2 separate regions of the Homo sapiens genome follow, and region 1 is linked to region 2. Evidence: fine-mapped expression QTL. A gene starts in region 2. The other region holds a variant in brackets. All regions are shown on one strand. Distances are from middle to middle.

Region 1 (11,631 bases), 28 kb before region 2:
TGAAGATTGAGAGATGTCCTCTGAGGGGTTGGGTTTGTAAGATAACGTTAATGGCCCTGCTGGAAGACTGAAGTCCTTTCTGATCAATGGAGGGGACAGCAAGGGATGCAAGGAACCCCATACAATGCGGTGAGATGGGATGGGCCACCCCTCCATTGTCCCAGGACCTTTGACCTTTGGGATCTCTTGATGGACCAGTGAGATGTGATATAATGCAGTTGTTGAGAAGAGAGGCAACCAAGCTTCAAATTCCATCTAACTAGCCTGGGTGCATAGACCGAGCCACCGAGATTTCTCGCCCCCTCATTTTTCTCTTCTCTAGAACGGGAGTGATAATAACGACTCATAGGCTAGCTATGATGCTTGATGAGTTAATGTACATAAAACACTGAGATGAGAACCAGGCATTACATAAGCAGCTACTATTCTTATTACTGGGGACTCCCATTTTGCAAAAGTTTGAGATCATCCTTTATGAGACCCCTGAGGGGCCAGAGACAGCCCATCTGCAGAAATAAAATGATCAAGGGTAGCCCATCTGGACACCAAGTGGGTAGCTCAGACAGCCGGGGGGCCTGGCATCCCACTGTCCTATCGAGGGCTTGGGACATCCTATTTTGCACTCTACACATATAAGATATCACATCTGGAGAAGTGAGGGACGAGGGAAATCTCATACGGAGCCCAGAAAAATAGGCCATATTCTTTGAGGGGCACTGGGATGATAGGACCGTCTTTGGAGACTGAAGAGTGCTGGAGATCTCATATGGGTGATCAAATATATGACAGCCCAAATGGGCTCTGAGGAGTGCCAGGTATTTTCCATGGGTCAGTGGAGGTAGAAGGAGATTTCATCCAGTTCCCAAGGGGTATAGAATGTCCCCCTGGTATAAGCACAAGCCGTGGCGTGGCGTGTCAGGGAGGTATGGAACAGCTCTCTGCCATGCCCAGGGATAAAACAGCCATGATTTGGGAAAGGAGGGAGTATGGGAATGTCTCTCGGAGAAAATGAGAAACGCTGAAATGTCCAGTCTGGGCATTTGGAGGCGAGAGGACAGGAAGTGAAGAACATTGCAGGGAAGGAACAAGGTCTGCCCTCGGGTGTTGGGAGGCGTCTGGTGAGAGCTTGGTTTGGTGGAAGCAGTAGGTGGGGAACAGGCATAGATCCTGCTTTGGGGTGGGCGTCTGTCTCCCCAGGGCTCACAGGATGGGAGCGCAAGCTGTCTCCAGGCTGGGAAGAGGAAGCTGACACCAGGAACCCAGGCTGTCTCTCCATGGGCACAGGCTGTCTGTGGGCACATGCAGAGTGGGCACGGGCTGTCTCCAGGGCACAGGCACTTCCAGAGGGTGCAGGCTGTCTGGGGTGGGCACAGGCTATCTGAGGACACCAGCTGTGTCTGGAATCACAGGCTGGGTCTGGGGACACAGGCAAGATTTTTCTAGTGACACAGGCTCTCTCTAGAGCTGTAGGCTGGTCTGGGGGGACACAGCGATGCCTGGGAACATTGGCTGTGTGGGGGCAGGGACTTTGGGGGTCATAGAATCATCTGGGACCATAGCCTGGTGTGGAGGTGCAGGCTGATCTGAGGGCACAGGCTGGTGTAAGGATGCAGGCTGGTCTGGGGGTATAGACTGGTCTAGGGGTGCATGTTAGTCTGGGGGTGGAAACTGTAGCTGGGGACACAGGCTCATCTGGGGGTACAGGATAGTCGGGGTACAGGATGGTCTTGGGGCACAGGCTGTAGGCGGGGGCACAAGCTCTCTTTAGAGGTGCAGAATAGGGGTACAGACTCGTCTGAGGGGGTCTCAGGTCACAGCCTGGTCTGGGGGTACAGGATGGCCTGGGGGCACAGACTCCCTGTAGGCACATTCTGGTCTTGGGGTACAGTCTGTAGCAGGAAAGCAAGCTCTAAGGCACAGGTTCTCTGGCGGTAGGCCCGTGAGGGACCTGGGCCATATCTGGGGGATCCCTCTATCTCTCAGCAGTTTCTGAGAGCAGAGGACGAAGTGGGCACTGGCGCTTACTGCGAGGCAAGCTGTCTCCTCCGGGCTCAGGCTTTTGTCCCTGGGGCGGGTTTTCTCCTCGGACACGGGCCCCTCTCCCTCCCTGTCCGTGGGACGCAAGCCCTGCGCTCGGGGCGGCGGCTGCTCACCTCCGGGCAGCTCCGCGGGGCCGCAGGTGTCCCTGTCCACGGGCACGTCCGCCTGCCACAGCCGCTTGGTGCACGCCTTCCACAGCCCCAGGTGGGCCGCTTCGCACACGGCGCTGCCGTTGGCCTTGTAGGTGTTGAGCTCCACCCAGAACTCGGTGCCCACGGACAGCACCGCCAGCGTGGCGCCCACGGCGGCCAGCAGCAGCGCCAGCTTCACCTTCCCCTCGCGCTCGGGCGTCAGCCCCGACCTGCCCTGCCCGTGCGCCCGCCGCCGGCCCGCGGCCCCCCGCCGCCGGTTCTCCTCTTGCAGGAAGAAGTTGGACCACATCATCTTATGGCCGGTGGGGTCGGGAAGGGGGAGGAGGCAGAGCCGGCGAAGGGCCTCGAGGGGCGGGAGCGAGGAGCGGCCTGGGGTCTTGAAGGGGGTGAGGGACTCAGTTTCCCCTGGGTATGAAAGAGGGAGAGCCGAGTCCTGTCTGGAATCTCAAATGCGAAAGTCGAGATTGCTTCTGGGGTTCAGAAGAGAAAAATGATCCCCAGGGCTGGGGAAGCCTCTGGGGTTCAGAGGAGGGTCTAGGTTGCCCTCAAGAACTTGGCAAAGAAGACGGGGCCCAGAGGAAAAACAAGGCCCCCACCCTGAGGTTTAGAGATAGAATTCGGCTTCCCAGGAGGGAGTCCCCCCAAGAGCTCCAGAGGAATGAGAACTGGTGCCCGCTGAAGCTCCCTGCAGCTCCAAGGGGCTGCTTTGGGGTCCCCGCTGGGGGGTTAACAAAAGGGAAACTGGTTTTCCTGAGAGATCTGAGCACCCCACTAGGGCTAAGAGTTTGGGGTACCCAGGAAGGGACCTGAGGTCCTGTGTGTGTTTGGAGGAGATGTGGCCGGGGTTCCCTTGGGCTCAGAGTTTGAGAACAGAGGACTTGGGGACCCTCTGGGATTCGGAAAAGGAAGACCTGGGGTCCCGGGAAGCTCCCAAGGGGAGGTCGGAATTCAATCCGGGTCTCAAGAGAGGCAGTAGGACCCCGGCATCCACAGAAGGAGAAGAACAGAGCCCTGGCTGGGGCTCAGAAGAGGACTGGGCCTCGCTGGAATTCAGGAAAAGGGGATAGGGGTCTCCCCTGCCATTCAGAAAAGATCCGAGGTCTCTACTGAGCCTGGAAAAGGGGCCGGTGGCCGGAAGACAGAGTGGAGTCCAGAGGCGGGAGGCTACGGGGCCTCCCCGAGGGCTGGGGCAGATGGGACCGGGGGCCCTCCTGGGGCTCACACTATGGGGCTGTGGTCCGCACTGCGGCTCGGAAAACCAGGACTGAGTCCCCCCAGGGTTCAAAGGCCAACCGCGACCCGCAAGAGACGCTGCGCCCCTTCGGGATCAGTCCGTCTCCCTCCCCCGGGCTCCCAGGGCCTTCCCGGTCGGGTTCGCGCCAGGCTCAGCCCCAGGCCAGGGCCCCCCCTCGGGGCTCCCACCCCCGACTCCCGAGCAGGGGCCCCTCTCGCTCTCCTGCCTCGGCCCCGCGCCGACCCCAGCTCCGCGCTGCCTCCGAAGCGTCCGGCTGTGCCCGCCACCGCCACCGGCCTGGCCTCCGCCCGCGCCCGGCCTCGTCCCCACCCGCCCACCCCCCACCCTCCACCCTCCACCCTCGGGGCTATTTCGGGCTTGACCCGTAAATAACACCCGCACCTGTCGCCCGGCGCCTGTTGCCATAGGGATCCCGGGTGTTTTAAGGGGACGAGGAAGGGGGGAGGGAGGCCGCCCGGGGAGGAAGGGGCCGAGCCTGATGGGACTTTCATTTCACTAAGGGGCAAGAGCGGCGCCGAGAGTCCCAGCTCCGCAGTCTCCCGGGCAGCAGGAGACGGGCGGGGCAGCAAGTCTGACTGGGGTTACCAGGGAGGAGGGGCGGGAGGCAGGGCCCCGGGTCTCAGGGAGGAGGGCCTGAGGCCAGGAGTCTTGGGTCCCTAAGGGAGAAGAAGCCTCGGTACCCCACTTCTGAGTGGTAGAGGAAGAAGGCCTGGGTACCCAGAATCTTGGATCTGAGAGGAGAGGAACCTGGTCTCCTAGGTCCTGGGCTCCTGAGTCTGAGGGAGGAGGGGCTGGGGGCCTGAACTCCTGGGTCTGAGGGAGGAGGGGCTGGGGTCTGGACTCCTGGGTCTGAGGGAGGAGGGGCTGGGCCTGGGCTCCTGAGTCTGAGGGAGGAGGGACTGGGGCCTGGACTTCTGGGTCTGAGGGAGGAGGGACTGGGGCCTGAACTCCTGGGTCTGAAGGAGGAGGGGCTGGGGGCCTGGACTCCTGGGTCTGAGGGAGGAGGGGCTGGGGGCCTGGACTCCTGGGTCTGAGGGAGGAGGGGTTGGGGGCCTGGGCTCCTGGGTCTGAGGGAGGAGGGGCTGGGGGTCTGGACTCCTGGGTCTGAGGGAGGAGGGGCTGGGGCCTGGACTCCTGGGTCTGAGGGAGGAGGGGCTGGGGGCCTGGGCTCCTGAGTCTGAGGGAGGAGGGGCTGGGGGCCTGGACTTCTGGGTCTGAGGGAGGAGGGACTGGGGCCTGAACTCCTGGGTCTGAAGGAGGAGGGGCTGGGGGCCTGGACTCCTGGGTCTGAGGGAGGAGGGGCTGGGGGCCTGGGCTCCTGGGTCTGAGGGAGGAGGGGCTGGGGGCCTGGGCTCCTGGGTCTGAGGGAGGAGGGGCTGGGGGCCTGGGCTCCTGGGTCTGAGGGAGGAAGGCCTGGGCCTGGACTCCTGGGTCTGAGGGAGGAGGGGGCAGGGGGCCTGGACTCCTGGATCTGAGGGAGGAGGGGCTGGGCCTGGACTCCTGGGTCTGAGGGAGGAGGAGGGCCGGGGAGCCTGGACTCCTGGTCAAGGCGTTGGCAGACCCAGAGTCCTGGGCCTCAGGGAGGAGACTGGGGCCAGAACCCTGGGTCTTGAAGGATGGAAGGCCTGATTTCCATGTTGGAGAAAGCGCAGGCCTCAGGGCAGGGCCGGCTGTCAGGGGCACAGAATGAAAGCAGCACTCCTCTTCATCGAGTTTATTAGACGGGGCACCCCTGGGGGACCTTCCATGCAGTTTCAGCTCCCCCAGGAGCAGGGACAGAGGACAGCCGTGTGGCATGGCGGCAGGGCCTGATCTTCAACCCCTCACCCCCTACCCCTCAGCCCTTCTGTGGACGGCCCAGGTGGGACCCACCTTTCACCAACTCCTTCTTCTCCCACAGTTGGCTGCTCCAGGCAGGCCTGGCGCTGACCTGAGCGAGGCTCTGGTGCACGCTGGGCCTCTCTGCCCACCCCCTGCTCTGGACTTTTCCGATGGAGCACGTGTTTCCCCGCAGTGTGATTGTCTGTGTCTGGTTCTTCCAGCAGACTGGGGCCGGGGCCAGGCACAGGAGGAATTCACCTTGGCATCCTCAGCTCTACCCGGCACAGGGCCAGGTCACAGGCAGTCTTGGAAAATGTGCATGGGGTGACTTGAATGAATGGATGGATGAATGGGCAAAGGAATGACCAGATGGAGTGAGATGATGGCACACAGACATCCCCGCCCCAGCTAGGGGAGGGGCCTGCTGCGTTTCCTCAATGCCCGCGTGGCCCCGTCAGAACACAGCCCCCTCTGTATTCTAATTGTCTGGACTACCTGTCCCCCCCTCTGAAGGCAGAGATGGGACAGAAGTGGCCTGAGATTGCAGGGCCTTGTACTTGGAAGTCCTCAGGAAATATTTTTTTTTCTTTTTATTGATCATTCCTTGATGCTGTGCTTGCTTCTGAGTCTCCACGTTGCTTTCTATGCGAATCTCTGGGTCTTTCTCCGGCTTACGTCTCCCTATCTCTGTGGTTGTGTTTTTGTTATCTCTGGGACTTCTCTGATTTGTGTACCTGTCAGTCTCTCTCCTCCTCCTTTTCTGTCTTCTCTGTATCACCTTCTTGTCTTTGACTTTATTTCTTTGACTTTCTTTCTTTCTGTTTTCTGAGACAGGGTCTTGCTCTGTGGCCCAGCCTGAAGTGCAATGGTGCAATCATAGCTCACTGCAACCTTAAACTCC[T/C]GGACTCAAGCAATCCTCCCGCCTCAGCCTCCCGAGTATCTAGGACTACAGGCGTGAGCCACCACGCCACAGCTCATTTTTCATTTTTGTAGAGACGGGGTCTTACTATATTGCCCAGGCTGGTCTCAAACGCCAAGCCTCAAGCAATCCTCCTGTCTTGGCCTCCCAGAGTGCTGGGATTACAGGCATGAGCCCCCAAGCCTGGCCAGAAAGTATTTCCAAGAACTGAGTGAATGTTTATTTCTGAAAATGAATGATGAAAACGTGTTCTTCCCCTTCACCTCAATAGGTCTTGACAGGGTCTACAGGGGGAATCCCAGAGTGTGCCCGGCGCTGACAGCAGCAAGAGACAGGAGCTGGGCAGAGCATCCCTGGCTAGGGGATCTGCCAGAGCCTAGCTGACAGCATCCTCTCTTCCCTGCCCCCTGAATTCATCTTCCCCTCCTGGCCCTGGGCTTCCCCATCTCTCTTGCTCCTGCCTGCTGTGACAGCTAATTGCAGGATGCAATTTTCTGCCTCCCATCTCCCTATCTGCATGTCTCCCTACTTCCTTTCAGGGTCATTTTTTTTTTTTTTTACCTTTTTTCTTTTTTGAGACAGAGTCTTGCTCTGTCACCCAGGCTAGAGTGCAGTGGTGTGATCTTGGCTCACTGCAACCTCTGCCTCCTGGGCCCAAGAGATTCTCCTGCTTCAGCCTCTCAAGTAGCTGGGATTACAGGTGTGCACCACCGCACCTGTCTAATTTCTGTATTTTTAGTAGAGACGGGGTTTCACCATATTGGCCAGGCTGGTCTCGAACTCCTGACCTCAAGTGATCCACCCACTTCGGCCTCCCAAAGTGCTGGGATTACACACGTGAGCCATCGCACCTGGCCTTTGTGTCAGTTACACACACACACACACACACACACACACACACACTTGCCTGAATTCCCTTTCCTTCTGTCTTCCCCCCAAATTCTCTCTCCCCTCCACTCCAGCAGGGCTTCTGTCCCCACCACTGCACTGAACTGACATCTTATCTTATCAAGATCACCAACCCTGTCCATGTCATCAGACCTAATGGTCACTCTGCTCTCTGCATCCTTGTCCAAGTCTCAGCAGCCCTTGGCACAGCTGGCTGTCTCCTCTCCTTCTTGAAACACAAAGGTGCATTTGCCCTCTGTAACCCTCCTGGTTTCAGCCTACCTCGAGATCACTCCTAAGCTCGTTTTGCTACATCCCCTTCTCCCCCAGATGTAGATGTCCCCAAGGCTCTGGCCAGGGTCGCTTCTCTGTCCCCACCCCCCTGCTAGGCCACGTCACCCAATCCTGTGGCTTTATGTTGACGTTTCCAAAACTTACGTTTTTGAGCCACGGCCTCTCTTTCCCCCAAACTCCAGTCTCACATATCCAACTGGCTATTTGATACCACAACTCGGATTTCTCGAAGGCAGATCTATCTTGACACATCCAAAAGAGAAGCCTTGGTTCCTCCCTCCCAAAGCCACTTTCCTGATCCCAGTCTCCTCGTTCCTGGTAACAATCCTCATCGGTGCCCATCAGAGATGTGCGTGCCCAATTCAGAGAGTTCTTCTCTTCCTGGTTCCTTTTCCTTCCCTCCTCTATGACATCCAGTTCACCACCAATGCAGGCTCTAGCCTCCAAAATCCCATGCCTTCTTCCACTTCCTCCATCCCACTAACTCCACCTTGGTCCAGGCCTCCAGCAACCAGAGGAAGGCAACAGCCCGCTACCTCCTTCCTTCCCCTTTGACTCCTGAAGTCTACGTATGCTCAGCACAGCAATGTAATTCTGCTGTTCTTGTTTAAATAAAAATATGAGGCCGGGCGCAGTGGCTCACTCCTGTAATCCCAGCATTTTGGGAGGCCGAGGCAGGTGGATCATTTGAAGCCAGGAATTTCAGATTGGCCTGGCCAACACGGTGAAATCCCGTCTTTACTAAAAATACAAAAAAATTAGCCAGGCGTGGTGGCACATGCCTGTAATCCCAGCTACTCAGGAGGCTGAGGCAGGAGAATCACTTGAACTTGGGAGGCGGAGGTTGGCAGTGAGCCGAGATCAGCCCACTGGACTCCAGCCTGAGACAGAGCAAGACTCTTTTTCAAAATAAATATAAATAAGAAAATAAAAATATGATCATGGCATGCCTGTGCTCAAAACCCTCCAAGCACTTCCCATCAGATCTAGAATAAAATTCAGATTTCTTCCCAAGGATCCAAGGCCCTAACTGATCAGCCCCTACCCTGTGCCTCTGTCCTATGGTGGATCTGCTCACCGCACAGGCCTCCTCGAAGACCTGCTACTTTTCTGGGCTTTGGGGCTGCCTCTGGTGGGTGGAATGCCTGGCCCCCAGACTTTCTCACCTCTCTTTCCTACTCACAATCCACATCTCTGTGACCTCTGCCACAAGGTCTACTCCAAGGACCTCATCTAAAGTCATCCTTGCTCTGTCATTCTGTTACCACTCACTGTCGCCCAGGCTGGAGTGCAGTGGCGCGATCTCAGCTCACTGCAACCTCTGCCTCCTGGGTTCAAGTGATCCTTCTTTCTCAGCCTCCCAAGTAGCTGGGACTACAGGCACACCAGCACACCCAGCTACTTTATTTATTTATTGGTAGAGATGAAGTTTCACCATGTTGACCAGGCTGGTCTCGAACTCCTGACCTCAAGTGATCCACCAGCCTCGGCCTCCCAAAGTGCTGGGATTACAGGCATGAGCCACTGCGCCCGGCCTTCAGCTTAATTTTTAAAGCACTTTTTGGTTACTGAAATGATATTATTTATTGTTTATCTCTCCAGTGTGTTTCAGGAGAGCAGGCCCTTGTCCGTCTATTTGCCACCACATCCCCTGGCCGAGATTGGGTCTAGAACAGGTTGGCACTCAATAAATATTTCTTGAATACTGGGAAAACAACACACCAGAAATGGAGCATTCCTTGACGCTGCGCTTGCTTCTGAGTCTCCACGTTGCTTTTTGTGCGAATCTCTGAGTCTGTCTCCGGCTTACCTCTCCCTCTCTATCTCTGTCTCTGTGTGTGTTTCTGCTATCTCTGGGACTTCTCTGATTTGTGCACCTGTCAGTCTCTCCTCTTCCTCTTCTCTCTCCTCTGTATCACCTTCCTGTCTTTGACTTTTTCTCTGTCTGTGACTCTACTAGTTTGGTCTCTCCTGCTCTCCCCCTCCCTCCCCATCTTGCTCTTCCTCCTGCCTACCCTCAACCTCATTCTTTCTCTCTCTCTCTCTCTCTCTCTCGTTCTGTTTGGCCTTCAGACTCTAGAATCCATTCTCCCCTAACCAGTTCCCTCTCCCTCTTCCAGCAAATATTTGCTGTCTCTCAATTTTTTTTTTTTTTTTGAGACAGAGTCTCGCTCTTTCGCCCAGGCTGGAGCGCAGTGGTGCCATCACGGGTCACTGCAGCCTCACCCTCCCAGGCCCAAGCGAGATCCTTTCACCTCAGCCTCCTGAGTAGCCGGGACTACAGGCGTGCACCACCACACCCGGCTAATTTTTGTATTTTTGGTAGAGACAAGATTTCAATATGTTGGCTGGTCTGGAACTCCTGAGCTCAATCTGCCTGCCTCAGTCTCCCAAAGTGCTGGGATTAGGAGCCACAGCACCCGGCCAGATTTGTCTCTTTTAACACCCGCTCCGGCATCCCTCTTCTCTCCACGTATCCGTCTCTCTCACTCAGCGCTTCTCCGTCTCACTGATTTGTATTCCTTTTCCTACATTTCCCAGCATCTCTTCCTGAAACCGCCTTGGCAGAATTCTTCCTAGGGACCTTCAGTCTCTCTCTTCCTGGTCCTTCCACACAGGCCTCGGAGAGAAATTCTGAACACCCAGCTCTGATCTGTACCCTTCCGTCAAGAGAAGGGCACGCAGAGCCCCTGGCAGCATGGCACCACCGCTGCCACGTCCTCCTCAAGCTGCGTCTGTGCCTGTTTTCCCGCCAGACTGGGAGCCCCTTGAGAGCAGGGCAAGATCAAAATCACCTCTCCACTCCCAGCACCGCCCAGCACAAGGCTTCGGGGGAGGCCTCAGGAAACACTTGCTGAGCAAATATGGAAGGGAAGCCTACTGGGCGCTGTCCCCTCTGCCTTCTCAGTGAACTTCAAACCCATCCCCTCCAATCACCGCACAGCCCTTGCCCCCGCGCAGCTGTCATCCTCTCTCACCATCCTTAGAAGAGCCTCAGTCCCTCTGCCTGGAACTCAGGCACCTTTTTCTCTTTTTTTCTGAGACAGGATCTCAGTCTGTTGCTCAGGCTGGAGTGTAGTGCCGCGATCCTAGCTCACTGCAGCCTCGAACTCTTGGAGTCAAATGGTCCTCCTCCCTCAGCCTCCTGAGTAGCTGTGTCCACAGGTGTGCTCCACCACGCCCGGCTAATTTTTTTTAATGTTTTGTAGAGACAGGGTTTCGCCATGTTATCCAGGCTGGTCTCAAACTCCTGGGCTCAAGTGATACTCCAGCCTCAGCCTCCCAAAGCGCTGGGATTACAGGCATGAGCCACCGCGCCCGGCCACCCTGGTACCTTTACACTCTAGCTTGTGGCTACTTTCCCGGCCTCATCTCCCAGCCCCACCTTGTACATCAGCATCCCAGAACTGTTAGCACTGACCCCAATACATCATGCTCGTTCACTTCCTCCCGTTTTCACCCAAGTTGTTCTTTGGCCCCACAAGCCTTTCTCATGCCTTTCATCAACCAGAAGATGCCCACTCATTTCTTCAAGACCCAGAATGGGCATCATATTCTCCAGGAAGCCTACCCCAAGTGCTGCTCACTCCTGGCAGTTGGTCACTCTGTCCACCGTGTGCCACGGTACCCACGGTGGTCCGGGTTCCAGCACCGATTGCCCTGCCTGGATGGCGGTGTTTGATGACAATAAACTGCTTGAGAGCAGGGCTAGAGTCTGTTTCACCCCTGGGGATCTGGATCCTAACACACTTCCTGGTACCTTAGCAGATGGCCAAAAATGGCAATGGGTGAGTGGCTGAATGAACGAGTGACAGACACATGAGTCTCTAAGCCCCACGGCTTTCTCCTGCACACCAGACACCATGACTATGCTTCAGCATCTGTGTAATTACGTGCTTCCTCCCACAAGAGTGTGAGCTCCAAGGGCCCGTGCCCATGTTTGATGCTGTATTTCAGCACATCTCTGCCTCCTACTCTTGCCTCCGAGTTCCTGTCTTCCCTTTGTACACCATTCACGTTAGCGTCCTGCTTAAACCCGTTCCACGGCCCTCACCACTCCTAGAATAAAATCTGAACTCCTGACCTACGAGCCCCTGCACAATCTGGCCCTGTCTGTGTCTCCGGCCTCACCTTGATCCCCGCTCACCTGCCTCACTACCCTTCAGCCCTCGCTGCAAGCTCCTTCCTGCCCCGGGGCCTTTGCACGTGCTGCTCTGCCTGCCACACTCCTGCCCCAGCTCCGCCCTGCTGGCTTCTTCTCA
Region 2 (11,615 bases):
AATTATCCACCCCAAAATATCAACCATGCTGCGGTGGAAAAACCCTGCTTTGGAGACGCCCCTGGCTCTTCTCTCTCATATCCTACAACTGCTCCATCAGCAACTCCTGCCCACGGTAGCTCCAGAATATACTCAAAATTCAAACAACTTCCCAAACCCTGCTGCCCCCACCCTAGATGAGCCTCTCGTTGTCTCATTTGCCTTCCCCTCGGTCATTTGTTAACACAGCAGCAAGAAACATACCGCAAAAATGTAAGTCAGCTCGTGTGACTCCTCTGCTCAAGAACCTTCAACGGCTCCCATCTCCGAATCTAAAGCAAAGTGCTTTCTGGGATGTATAAGAAGCCGTGAGGCCGGGTGCAGTGGCTGACATCTGTAATCCCAACACATCGGGAGGCTGAGGCCGGAGGATTGCTTGAGCCCAGGAGTTTGAGACCAGCCTGGGCAATATAGTGAGACCCTGTGTCTACAAAAAATGGGGGCATGTGCCTGTAGTTCTAGCTATTTGGGAGGCTGAGGCAAGAGGACGGCTTGGGTTCAGGGGTTCAAGGCTGCAGTGAGCTATGGTCTTACCACTGCACGCCAGCCTGGGTGACAGAGCAAAACCCTGCCTAAAAACAAAAAAAGAAAAACAAAACAAAAACAAACACAGAAGCTGGCCAGGCATGGTGGCTCACATCTGTAATCCCAGCACTTTGGGAGGCCTAGGCGGGCCAATCACTTGAGGTCAGAAGTTCGAGACCAGCCTGGCCAACATGGTAAAACCCTGTCTCTACTAAAAATACAAAAATTAGCCGGGCATGGTGGCACACACCTGTGATTCCAGCTACTCGGGAGGCTGAGGTATGAGAATCGCTTGAACCCAGGAGGCCGAAGTTGCAGTAAGCCAAGATCACGCCACTGCACTACAGCTTGGGTGACAAAGCAAGACTCTGTTTCAATAAATAAATAAATAAATAAATAATTTTTAAAAAACAGAACCTGTGGGATGGGGACCCTGATACCCCTACGACTGCACCTCTTACTCCTACGTTCTCCGCCACCCACTCTGCCCCGGCCACGCTGACCTCACACTGGCTTGATCAACACACAGCCACACTCCCACCTCAGGGCCTCTGCGCCTGCTATTCCTACAGTCTGAAGCACTTTCCTCCATCTCTTACTTCCTTCAGACCTGTGATCAAATGTCACCTGCTCGGGGAAGCTTTTCCTAGATTCCTTATCTACTTCCCACGGGGATCCCTGACCCCTCCCATCCCCTCCCCCAACTCCTTGTCCTCCTTAGCACTCAGTTCTATCTAACACCCTAAAGGTTGACTTTACCTCCATCATTATCTGTCTCTCCCTTAGAATATAAGATATATAACGACAGGAGGTTTTGTCTGTTTGTTTTCCACTGCTGCAGCCCCAGAATCCAGAACAATGCCTGGCACATAATATAAACTCAATAAAAATGGGACGTTGAATGAACGAATGAATGAATGAATGACATCCCTACTAGATGCCACGTGCTGTCCTAGGGCTCCCATGATGGGAGCCCTCACACTTGGCTCTATGCCTGGTACTTGGTCAGACCAGTGAATGGACATGAACTCAAACTTCCACAGGAGAGGCAAAGAACATCACGAGAGCCGTGGGAGGAATGGGAGGCGAGACGGAGCAGATGGAGGTGACTGTGGGGAAGTGGAGACCCCCCAGCTGCTGCTCAGATCCGGCCCATCGTGGTCAGGGTAGAACACAGGCTTGTGCTAGATCTTCCGCCAGCTCAGAAGAAGCCGGAAATCAGAACTACAATGGGAAGCCTCCCTATTTTTAACTGTTGGCAATGGATTCAGATTTTGCTTTCAGTTTTAAACACTTTGTACACTAGACAGAGCGCATCTGTGAATCCCATCCATGAGATTCGAGTTCTGCTCTTGGCTCGGCCCCTTTCTCAGCTAGGTGACCTTGGGCAAGTGACTTCACTTCTCTGAGCCTCAGTTTACCCATCCCCAACAGCGAGGTGGTGCCCACCTCATAGGATTAAACGAGATAACGTTCCCGGCTTGTCGTGAACACTCAGCAAAACAGAGGAAGAAGGGGCAGAGGAAATAGAGGGGGATGAAAAAGAGAAGCAAGAGATTTCAATCTTTTGGCCGAAGGGGGCATCAGGATGGCTGGTTCCACTCCTTCACGTTGCAGACAAGGGCTGTGAGGCTGGGGTGCAGGAGGGAAGACAGTGGTCACACAGCAGGGCAGATATGCAGCAGAACTGGCACCCAAGACTCCTGCTTCCCAGCCCCGCAGCTACTTGATACTCAGGAAAGAAATACTGATGCTAAGAGTGGGAGAGAGAAGGGGTTGGCACAGCAGAGGGCAGGAGTCTTGGAGAAGTGGGGAAGTCGAGAGCCAGGGAGCCGAGCTAGGAGAGAAGCTGTGAGAGGGAGAACAGGACAGAGGAAAAGAACCAAGTCGAAGATCCGAGGAGGTAGCAGGGGCAGGAGCGAGAAGCCTTAACGTGAAGGCCTGAGGCATCGAGTCAGGAAGACGTCGAAGGAGGCATGAGTGGAGGAAGAGGAAGTGGAGTCCACTAAAGGAAAAAGGAGGAAAGGACCAGGATGGGAGGTTGGAGGGCACCCTGGTGGGAGAGACATGGGTGGGGGCACTGATGGGAAGAGAAAGATGAACAGGAGGAGAAGCACAAGGCAGAAAAGAGAGAAAGTCATGAGTGAGGGCGAGTTAAGGCACGAAGTTTCAGGGGAGCAGCAGCCAAAGAGAAGGGGAAAGAGACAGACCGGAAGACTGGGCCGTGAAAGGGGGCGGGAGAGGCAGGGGACTTCAGAGGACTGGGGGGGAAATGTCGGGAGAGAGAAGATGTCACGGGGCACGAGGGAGAGGAAATGAAGGGGCAGGTGGAGCGGAGGAGCAGGGTCAAGATGAACTGACGGGAAAGAGGGAGAAAGAGGCTGCTGGGTGCAGTGGCTCATGCCCTTCATCCCAGCACTTTGGAGGCCAAGGCAGGAGGATCTCTTGAGCTCAGGAGCTCGAGACCAGCCTGGGCAACAGGAGACCTCATCTCTACAAATAATAAAAAAAATTAGCTGGGCACAGTGGCTCATGCCTGTGGTCCCAGCTACTCAGGAGGCAGAGGTGGGAGGATGGCTTGAGCCTAGGGATTCGAGGCTGCAGTGAGCTGTGATTGTGCCACCGTACTCCAGCCTGGGCGACAGAGTGAGACCTTGTCAAAAAAAAAAAAAAAAAGAGAAAAGGCACAGGGCAGAGTGGAAGAAATGAAACAGGAGGAGCCCCAGGTACTGGAGAGAGGGAAGATGCAGGGGTGTGATGGGGCAGCGCAGGAGACACGGACTAGGGAAAGATAGGATAAGGGGGTTCAGCGGAGAGGCAGAGGGGCTGCAGAGGGAGCATGCCGAGGAATTCCGCAGGGTGCCAGGACGCAGGGAGGAGTGGGAAGGAGGGGAGAGGAGGTCAGGGGCGCGAGTGGGAAGGCGCAGAAGCCCCTCTGGCAGAGGAGGAGGGGTGCCCAAGGGGGCCCCAGGATCAGGGACAGGCAGCCCCGGGAGGCTCAGGGTCTCTCGGAGGGGAGCGGCGGGGGCTGCGGGGAGGGCCGCCCGCACCCTACCTTCCAGGCAGCAGATCCTCCAGAGGCCCGAGTGCGTGAGGCCGCCGGGGTCCTTCTTCTCCGAGGCGCCGCCGCCCCCGCGGTGGGGGGTCCCGTCGTCGCCGCCGGCCGTGAGGTTGGTGGTGTTGCAGATGAGGGCGCGCGTGTAGAGCCAGTAGTCAGTGCTGATGGCGATGGTCATGAGGCCGAAGGCGGCGAAGGCGCCCACCGTCGTCAGCAGCACCTGCACCCCCTTCTCGCACCAGAGGCCCCGCTCTTCGTTCCAGCGCTTCAGCGACTCCAGTTTGACCACGGGCAGCCGGGGGGCCGTGGGCCACCACCGGGGCAGCGGGGGCGGGGCCGTGCCGGCGGCTGGGGGGGGGTTCACAGCGCAGGCAGAAGCGGGGGGCCCGGGGCCGGCGGGGCTGGGGAGGGGGGCGGCGAGGAGGAGGCTGCGGCCGGGGAGGGGGTCAGAGCGCGGCCATGGTCGGCGGCTGGTGGAGGGCAAGGAGCGAGATCTCGCATTAGAGGAGAAGAAGGCACAGGTACCTCCCCCAGTCCCCGCCCCCCCCCCCCCAAAATCCCTGCCTCAGCTCCAGAAACTCCTTCCACTCGGGGCTCCACTGCTTCTCTTTCTCAAAAATAATAATAATAATAATAATAATAATAATAATTAATAAATAAGATGAAATCTCTCTCCACTCTTGTCTTCTGCCCAAGAAAGTCATCCCACCATCCCACTAACCCCACTCGGAGGAGTCCCCACCACCGCTAATAATTAATAAATAAGATGAAATCTCTCTCCACTCCTGTCTTCTGCCCAAGAAAGTCGTCCCACCATCCCACTAACCCCACTCGGAGGAGTCCCCACCACCGCTAATAATTAATAAATAAGATGAAATCTCTCTCCACTCCTGTCTTCTGCCCAAGAAAGTCGTCCCACCATCCCACTAACCCCACTCGGAGGAGTCCCCACCACCGCTAATAATTAATAAATAAGATGAAATCTCTCTCCACTCCTGTCTTCTGCCCAAGAAAGTCGTCCCACCATCCCACTAACCCCACTCGGAGGAGTCCCCACCACCGCTCACACTCACAGCCCTCGCCCCTAGCCCGCGCCGCCTCCGCCCCAGGGGGCTCCACGATCCTCATCGCATGGGAAGCCACCCCCCGCCATGATGCCAAGCCCCACGCCGCCGCCTCCTCCCCAGGAGCCCCCGTCGCGTTCTTCCTTCCTTAGCGACCCCCGCCCCATCACCATGCGGCGCCCACCAGCTCTCCCCACTCTTCCCCTGCAAGCCCCACCTCTCCACCCGCTAGAACCCTTCCCTGTCAGCCCAACTTTTCCCTGAGCGTCTCCACAACTTAAGAAGCCCGAGTAGCACCACTTCCGTGGGAGTAACCTCCGCGAGCCCCCTCCGGTCTGGCTTTTGTCATTCCATCACTCCAAATGGTCCCCCACAGTTTCCTCTCCTTAGGAAAAAATAAATCTCTCAACCTCTCTTCAACTAAAAAGGAAAAATTAAAAGAAGAAGAAAAAGAAAAAGAAAATCCCAGCTGACCCTCACAGTTTGTGCAACTCGGAATCACCAGCCACCCTCAGTCAGCCTCCTCTCCCTGGAAGCCCCCTTCCTGCCTCGGGCAGCCTCCAACACACCTGGAAATCACCCGAGGACCTTAAAAATTCGGATGTTTGAGTCCCACCTGAGAAAGTCCGACATGGTTGGTCTGCAGTGTGGCCTGCGCATGTAAGTTTTTAAAAGCTCCCTGGGGAATTCTAATGCACCCAACATCAGACCCACTGGTTTGCAAGCTGCCCCCCCCCCGCCATCTCCAGCCCATTCCCTGTCACAGCCCCCACTGTCTCCCCACAAGCCACTCACTCCCCACCCCATACTATGCCTTTACTCCAGGAAAACCCCCACCCTCTCTTTTGCTTTAGAAGAGTTTTCTGAATCTTCCCACCCCGCCACCCCCCCCCCCACAACTTAAACGAACTCATATCATAACCATCGTTTTCTCCTCCATTAAGAAAAATTTCCTCCGTGAGTTCCACGGCATTTTCTACTCGCAAGAATGGCTTCCTCCAGACCCCAAATGTCTCTCCACTCAGGACCATTCCAATCTCTGCCCTGTACTCCCATAGCAGGGGGCACACTGTACCACCCACCCGCCCCTCTGCACTCACAGCAGCTCCCACTGCCTCCAAATCCCCTCCTCGTAGCCCTTCATCATCACACGGGATCTTCAGCACACTGTTTCCCCCAACTTGAGATCCCCCTAACTCACTTTGAAGCCCACTCTCTCTTCAATGTACCAGGAAGCATCCTCCCCAACTTCTCTCTCATCATATAGAATTCCCTTGACTCACTTCCTCTTGCTCCACCGCTATAGCTCCCAGGTTCTCCTCTGCCCCGGAAAATCCCCTCCGCAGGCCCCCACAGGCTTCCCTTCTTGGGAACGCCCCCCAGTACTCCCCTCTACGACTTCACCTGTACAGGAACACACACTGTAGCCCCTCATCTTCTTCCACATGCAGAAAGAGCCCCCCCAGTAGACTGTGTCCCTCTGAAAAATGTGATCCGCAAGACTACAACTCTCTTTTCAATTAGGAATACTTTCCCAGCCTGCACCCGCTGCCCCGTGGCTCCTTCATTTCTCTCTTCCACATTCTCCCCCGACCACCATGCCCCCAGCCCTGCCTGTCTCCCCCACCCCAACTGTCCTCTGGGGGATGTACTCCTTACTTGCTTCCACACTGCTTCTTCAACTTCTTCCCCCAAACCCACTATAGTTAAGAGCCTGGAAACCTTAGACGAAGAGGGGATTAAAAAAAAACAAAACAAAAACCAGAACCTAGGTCCCAGTACAGGGTGACCTTGGCCTCCTGATTGCTTGCCCGTCTCCACTGCCCCCCATCAGCTGGCCTCAGACTGGGGCTGCTCCGAGGAGGGGCTGTGGAAAAAGGTTGTCTATGGGGGGTGTCTCCATGGCAACTGGGCCTAGTGCCCCACACGTTGTGTTCCCTCCCCCACCTCAACTCCCGTCTGCCCACACACAGCCCTTCCTCAGGCCACAGTTCAGCAGCCCGCTGGACAGGGCAACCCCCAGCCTCCCGGCCTGGGCGCCGGCCCCTTCCTCTCTTTTCTGTCCGCATGCTGAGTTTCCTCTCTTCTTGATCTCTTGGCCTCTTCTCCCCGAATTGGTGCCCCTCACCACCAGCAGGGCCACCTACCCTGTCTTAACAGATATCTGCTCTCAGTGGGGTAAGCCTGTGACCCCAGGCCCCTAACAACCTGGGATAAGAGGGGAAGGGAAGAGGAGGGAAAGGAGGGAAATTCTCCTTCCGTCCAAAAAAAAAAAAAAAGATTCGAAGATCTTTTCATTTTGTCAATTTGGGGCACAATCTGGTTTTAGGGACTCTTAGTCCATCGTTCAGCAGCTGCCAGGGAGAAGAGAGCTGGGGACCCCCAATTCTAAAGCTTCCGGATATGAGGGGGTCACTCTCCTTTCTCCTTAGGAAGGGGACCAGCTCTTTTCTCCAGAATTCGGGGGGGGGGATCACAGAACATTAATTCTACCTCCACCCACCTCCGATTAATAAAAAGATCTGTCTCACCTCTGTTAATGATAGGTCAACTCTCCGATGCACGGAGGAGGGGACGTCGAGCCCCCCCTGTTGGCACCCCCCCCAGAAAAACCTTTTGGCTCCCAATTCTCGCTGCTTCCCCCTCCCCCAGCAGTGAGGGACCCAGGCGTCCGACCTGGTTCGGGGAGTGGAGATGAGGAGGCGTATGGGGAATGGGGGTGCTGAGGTCAGGCTGGGGCTGGGGGGCAGCTCTGAGCCTGGGCCCCAAGGGAGTGAGGGTCGGGATATATATATTAAAAAAAAAAGGTGAGGAGACAATTTGGTTCTCGTGTCGCTGGGTAAAGTGCGGAGCTGGAGGACGAGAGGGAGGGAGTAGGGAGGGAGGGGGAGGGGAGCTGCTGAGGGATGGGGAGCCTCGGAGAGGAGATGGATGGGGGAAGGGAAAGAGGGGGGCAGGGTCGAGTGGCAGAAGGAAGCCGGAGGAGAAGAGAGAGATCCAGAGAGGGAGGGAGAGAGACAGAGAGAGACGAGGAGAAACGGAAAGAGAGAGACCCAGAGACCGCGAAACAGAAATGGGGGAGGGAGAAATTTGGGGGAGGCAGCGGCTGGAAGCAGAAGGAAGTTGGAGAGATACACACAGAGAAATATCCAGAGAGAGAAGGGGACAGGGACAGAGACTCAAAGAGAGAAACGCAGGGGCTGGGGGGGAGGGGGTGGGGGAGGGCTGGGGTAAGTGTGTGTGTGGGGGGGGTCAGGATCTGGGAAACAGAAGGAAAGAAGAGAGAGGGAGAGAGTCATCCAGAGAGGAGGGAGGAGGGACAGATGGGGAGAGACAGACAGAAAGAGAGAGACTGAGAGGATGGGGGAGAGAGGGGGGAGAGGGAATGAAATGGAGAGCGGGTAGGGAGAGAAATTGGGGATGGGGGCAAGGTCTTGCTAGAGAGAAGGAAGCTTTAAAGAGAGAAGAAGATGCGGAGAGGGAGCGGGGGAGCAAGATAGTAAATGAAAGAAATGGAGGGTAGAAGGGCCTGGATGGCAGAAGGTACCTGGGGAAAGAAAGGCAAGTGCAGGAAAAGAGGGAGACCCAGAGAGAGACAGACGGAGAGGGACTGAGACAGGAAGAGAGAGAGATCCAGAGAAACAGAGGCAGACACAGAGACTGGGGATGCACCCGAAGGAAGCCCAGAAAAAATAACGGGAGAGGGGTGAGGCTGAGAAGCCCCGAGGAGGTCAGAGATGAAGGATACCCCTGCCCCCGCCCCCTCCCGCGTCCCCAGCCCCGGATCCCTGCCCCCTCCCCCATTCCAATGCCACCACCCCCACCCCCACTAGCCTCCATCTCTCTTCAGCATCGCTTGCCGCCGCCACCGCCTCTTCCTGTCGTCATAGCAACAGGATCCAGGCGCCCAGCCAAGGCTGGCAGCGGCGGCCGGAAATGAGGGGAGGGCCTTTTCAAAAGGACCCCAGGAATGCTCCCCTTTCCCAAAATCCAAGGGAAAGCGCAACTTCCCGGGGTCTTCCCACCGCTCCTCCTCCAAGTGGCGAGGGCAAAGATTCCCCCCCCACCACCCCAGATAAAACAATATTGAACTTACCACGTTAACAAGCCTTTTGACTTTCACCAACAATTTTTTCTTTTCTCTTCTCATCCCCCTCCCCTCCCCTAGTTCAAACCTGATGGGGAAGAAGGGGTAGAGTTAGATGCCCCCGAGATGGGGCTGGGGCTGGGAAGGAGAGTAGAATGCCAAAAGCTTGGGTGCAAATATGTCTTAAAGAAACTTGTCTGGGACTGGGTAGGGGTCTATGCAACAGTTTTGAGAAGCATGGATCTGTCCGTTCTAGAACTAGCTAGTAGGTTGGGGAAGTGGAACAATCGGAGGTGGAAAGTCTGAGATCAGAGTCTGAAAGTTCGGTCTTGGGTCCAAATTTCACGGATGCTCCCAAGGCTTCGTGTGACCTTGGACAAAACACTTCTTCTCCTCTATACTCAGTTGCTCTTGGTTATAAAGGGCACAGAAGCTGCCTCCAACCAAGTGAGAACGCGGATGGGAAGTGGGATTGCACGTGGCTCTAGGCAAGCCGTTTACTCAAGACCCGATCCTCGTAAAAATGTTATCAGAAACTAAGAACTAGTAGCCATGGCTGATTGAAGGCTGTTGGCATGCTTCGCTGTCTTACAGAAGTCCTACAGAATCTTTGCCGTGTGGGCACCAATGTTCCTACATTAACCATGAGTAACCTGAGGCTCTGAGACAATAGGGGTTATGGGGGTGGAGGGCGGCCAACAATAGGTGAAATTCATAGTCATTTAACCCAGCACACCTTTACTGCTCCCTCCTGGGGGCTGGCAGAAACAGGAATAACCTGTGTTCCCTAAATCTATTTACCTAGTGTTTGCTCCTGCTGGTTCCTTCCTTTGGAGGGGCGATATCTTTCAGTCCCCAGCATCTCACATTTCTACTGAAATTTCTTTAGGTCGTTTCACTTAATTCTCACCCCGCCCCATGGGAGAAAGTTTAGACATGCATTCCAACACTCCTGGTTTAGAAGCTAAGAAACACAGCCCCCAAGGGAAGGGGTCTGGAATTCATTCGTTTGAGGAAAGTTGATTATTTTCTGCTCTTTTGCTGGGGGATGCGGGGGGAGATACATCAGCAAACAATGATGATAACCAATATAAACTGGACATTTAGGCTGGGTGCAGTGTCTCATGCCTGTAACCCTAGCAATTTGGGAGGCCGAGGCGGGCGGATCACCTGAGGTCAGGAGTTTGAGACCAGCCTGACCAACATGGTGAAACCCCGTCTCTACTAAAAATACAAAATTAGCCGGGCATGGTGGTGCATGCTTGTAATCCCAGCTACTTGGGAGGCTGAGGCAGGAGAGTCACTGGAACCAGGGAGGTGGAGGCTGCAGTGAGCTGAGATCGAACCGTTGCACTCCAGCCTGGACAACAAGAGTGAAACTCCGTCTCGAAAAAAATAAAAATAAAAACAAACTGGGCATTTAATATTACAGACTCCAAGGAGCCTGAGGGTATTGGTTCCATCTTCAAAAGAAGTGGGTTCTGTTAGCAGCCTCCACTTTAAAGATGTGAAAACTGAGGTTGAGAGGTCAGTTGTATTGGAGGACATTCATCAGGACATCAAATTCCAGAGCCTGTGCTGATACAACTGCACTGGTGAGAACGACTATGAAGATAATTTTTTAAAGCCAGGGTTTCCCAATCTCAACGTTCTCAACATTTGGGCTGGATAATTTTGTGTGGTGGAGGCTGTCCTGTGCATTGTAGAATGCTGAGCAGTACTCCTCGCCTCTATCCACTAGATGCCAATAGCACCTCCAAATAGCACCCTAAAAATAGCATTTGGGGACAACCAAAAATGTCTCCAAACATTGCTCAATGTCCCTTGGGGAACAAAATCGCCCCTGTTGAGAACTATTAAATTATACGAACTAGCAACTGGGGGAAACCTCTTTATTTTATTTTAAATGAAAATATATTTCCTAGTCCAATCAATATAGGCTCATGGTTTAAAAAAAGAAAAGAAAAAAAATCAAATGGTACACAAGGGACTACAATAAAAATAATTTAGCCTGTTCCACCTCAAGTCCTTTTCCTTATTGGAAAAGTCTATTAACATTCTTGTTTTTGCTTTTGTTCTTGTTACTTGAGACGGAGTCTCACTCTGTCGCCAGGCTGGAGTGCAATGGCGCAATCTCGGCTCACTGCAACTTCTGCCTGCCGAGTTCAGGCCATTCTTGTGCCTCAGCCTCCCGAGTAGCTGGGATTACAGACATGCAGCAACATGCCCAGCTAATTTTTACATTTTTAGTAGAGATGGGGTTTCACCATGTTGGCCAGGATGGTGTTGATCTCCTGACCTCTTGATCTGCCTGCCTCGGCCTCCCAAAGTGCTGGGATTACAGGCATGAGCCACCACACCCGGCCGTCTATTAATATTCTTAGCTATTTCTTCTCTTACTTGCCTTGACATCCCTAAATAATGATTTTCTTTTGGAATCAAAATTATACATTATTTATAGATATTTTTTCTCTAATAGATAACAAATCAATTCATGCAGCCCTCACTTTTCCTTCCCTTCTTCCTCAAGTGTTAGTTCTTCTATTGGTAATTTTGTGACACTAAGTGATGCATGATTACATCATGATTTATTTCAACAACTAAAGAGTATATCTCTTTTTTTCACAGCTTTATTGAGATCGAATTCACATATCATGCAATTCACCCACTTAAAGTGTACAATTCAACGGCTTTTAATTGTACAGAGCTGTGCAATCATCAACTTCAGATCACTTTTAGAATATTTTCATTAGTCCAAGGAGATACTGTGTACTCCTTAGCCATCACCCCCAATCTAAGCACCCACTCCAGCCCTAGGCAATCACTAATGTACTTTCTGTCG

Evidence for each region. PIP is the estimated chance that this variant, and not a neighbour inherited with it, causes the effect.
Region 1: its variant is fine-mapped to the expression of CACNG8 in whole blood (INTERVAL, PIP above 0.99).

What each region holds. Positions count from the first base shown.
Region 1 is chr19:53,983,731-53,995,361 of GRCh38, reverse strand. It overlaps CACNG8 (calcium voltage-gated channel auxiliary subunit gamma 8), which reads right to left. Exons shown (of 4, transcript NM_031895.6): 4 at 5,147-11,631. It overlaps CACNG6 (calcium voltage-gated channel auxiliary subunit gamma 6), which reads right to left and starts at 3,725. Exons shown (of 4, transcript NM_145814.2): 1 at 2,154-3,725. The coding sequence starts at 2,484. The variant T/C (reference allele first, on the strand shown) is at 6,170.
Region 2 is chr19:53,955,430-53,967,044 of GRCh38, reverse strand. It overlaps CACNG8 (calcium voltage-gated channel auxiliary subunit gamma 8), which reads right to left and starts at 4,108. Exons shown (of 4, transcript NM_031895.6): 1 at 3,620-4,108. The coding sequence starts at 3,902. RefSeq lists enhancers at 4,747-5,267, 6,078-6,978, 9,189-9,723.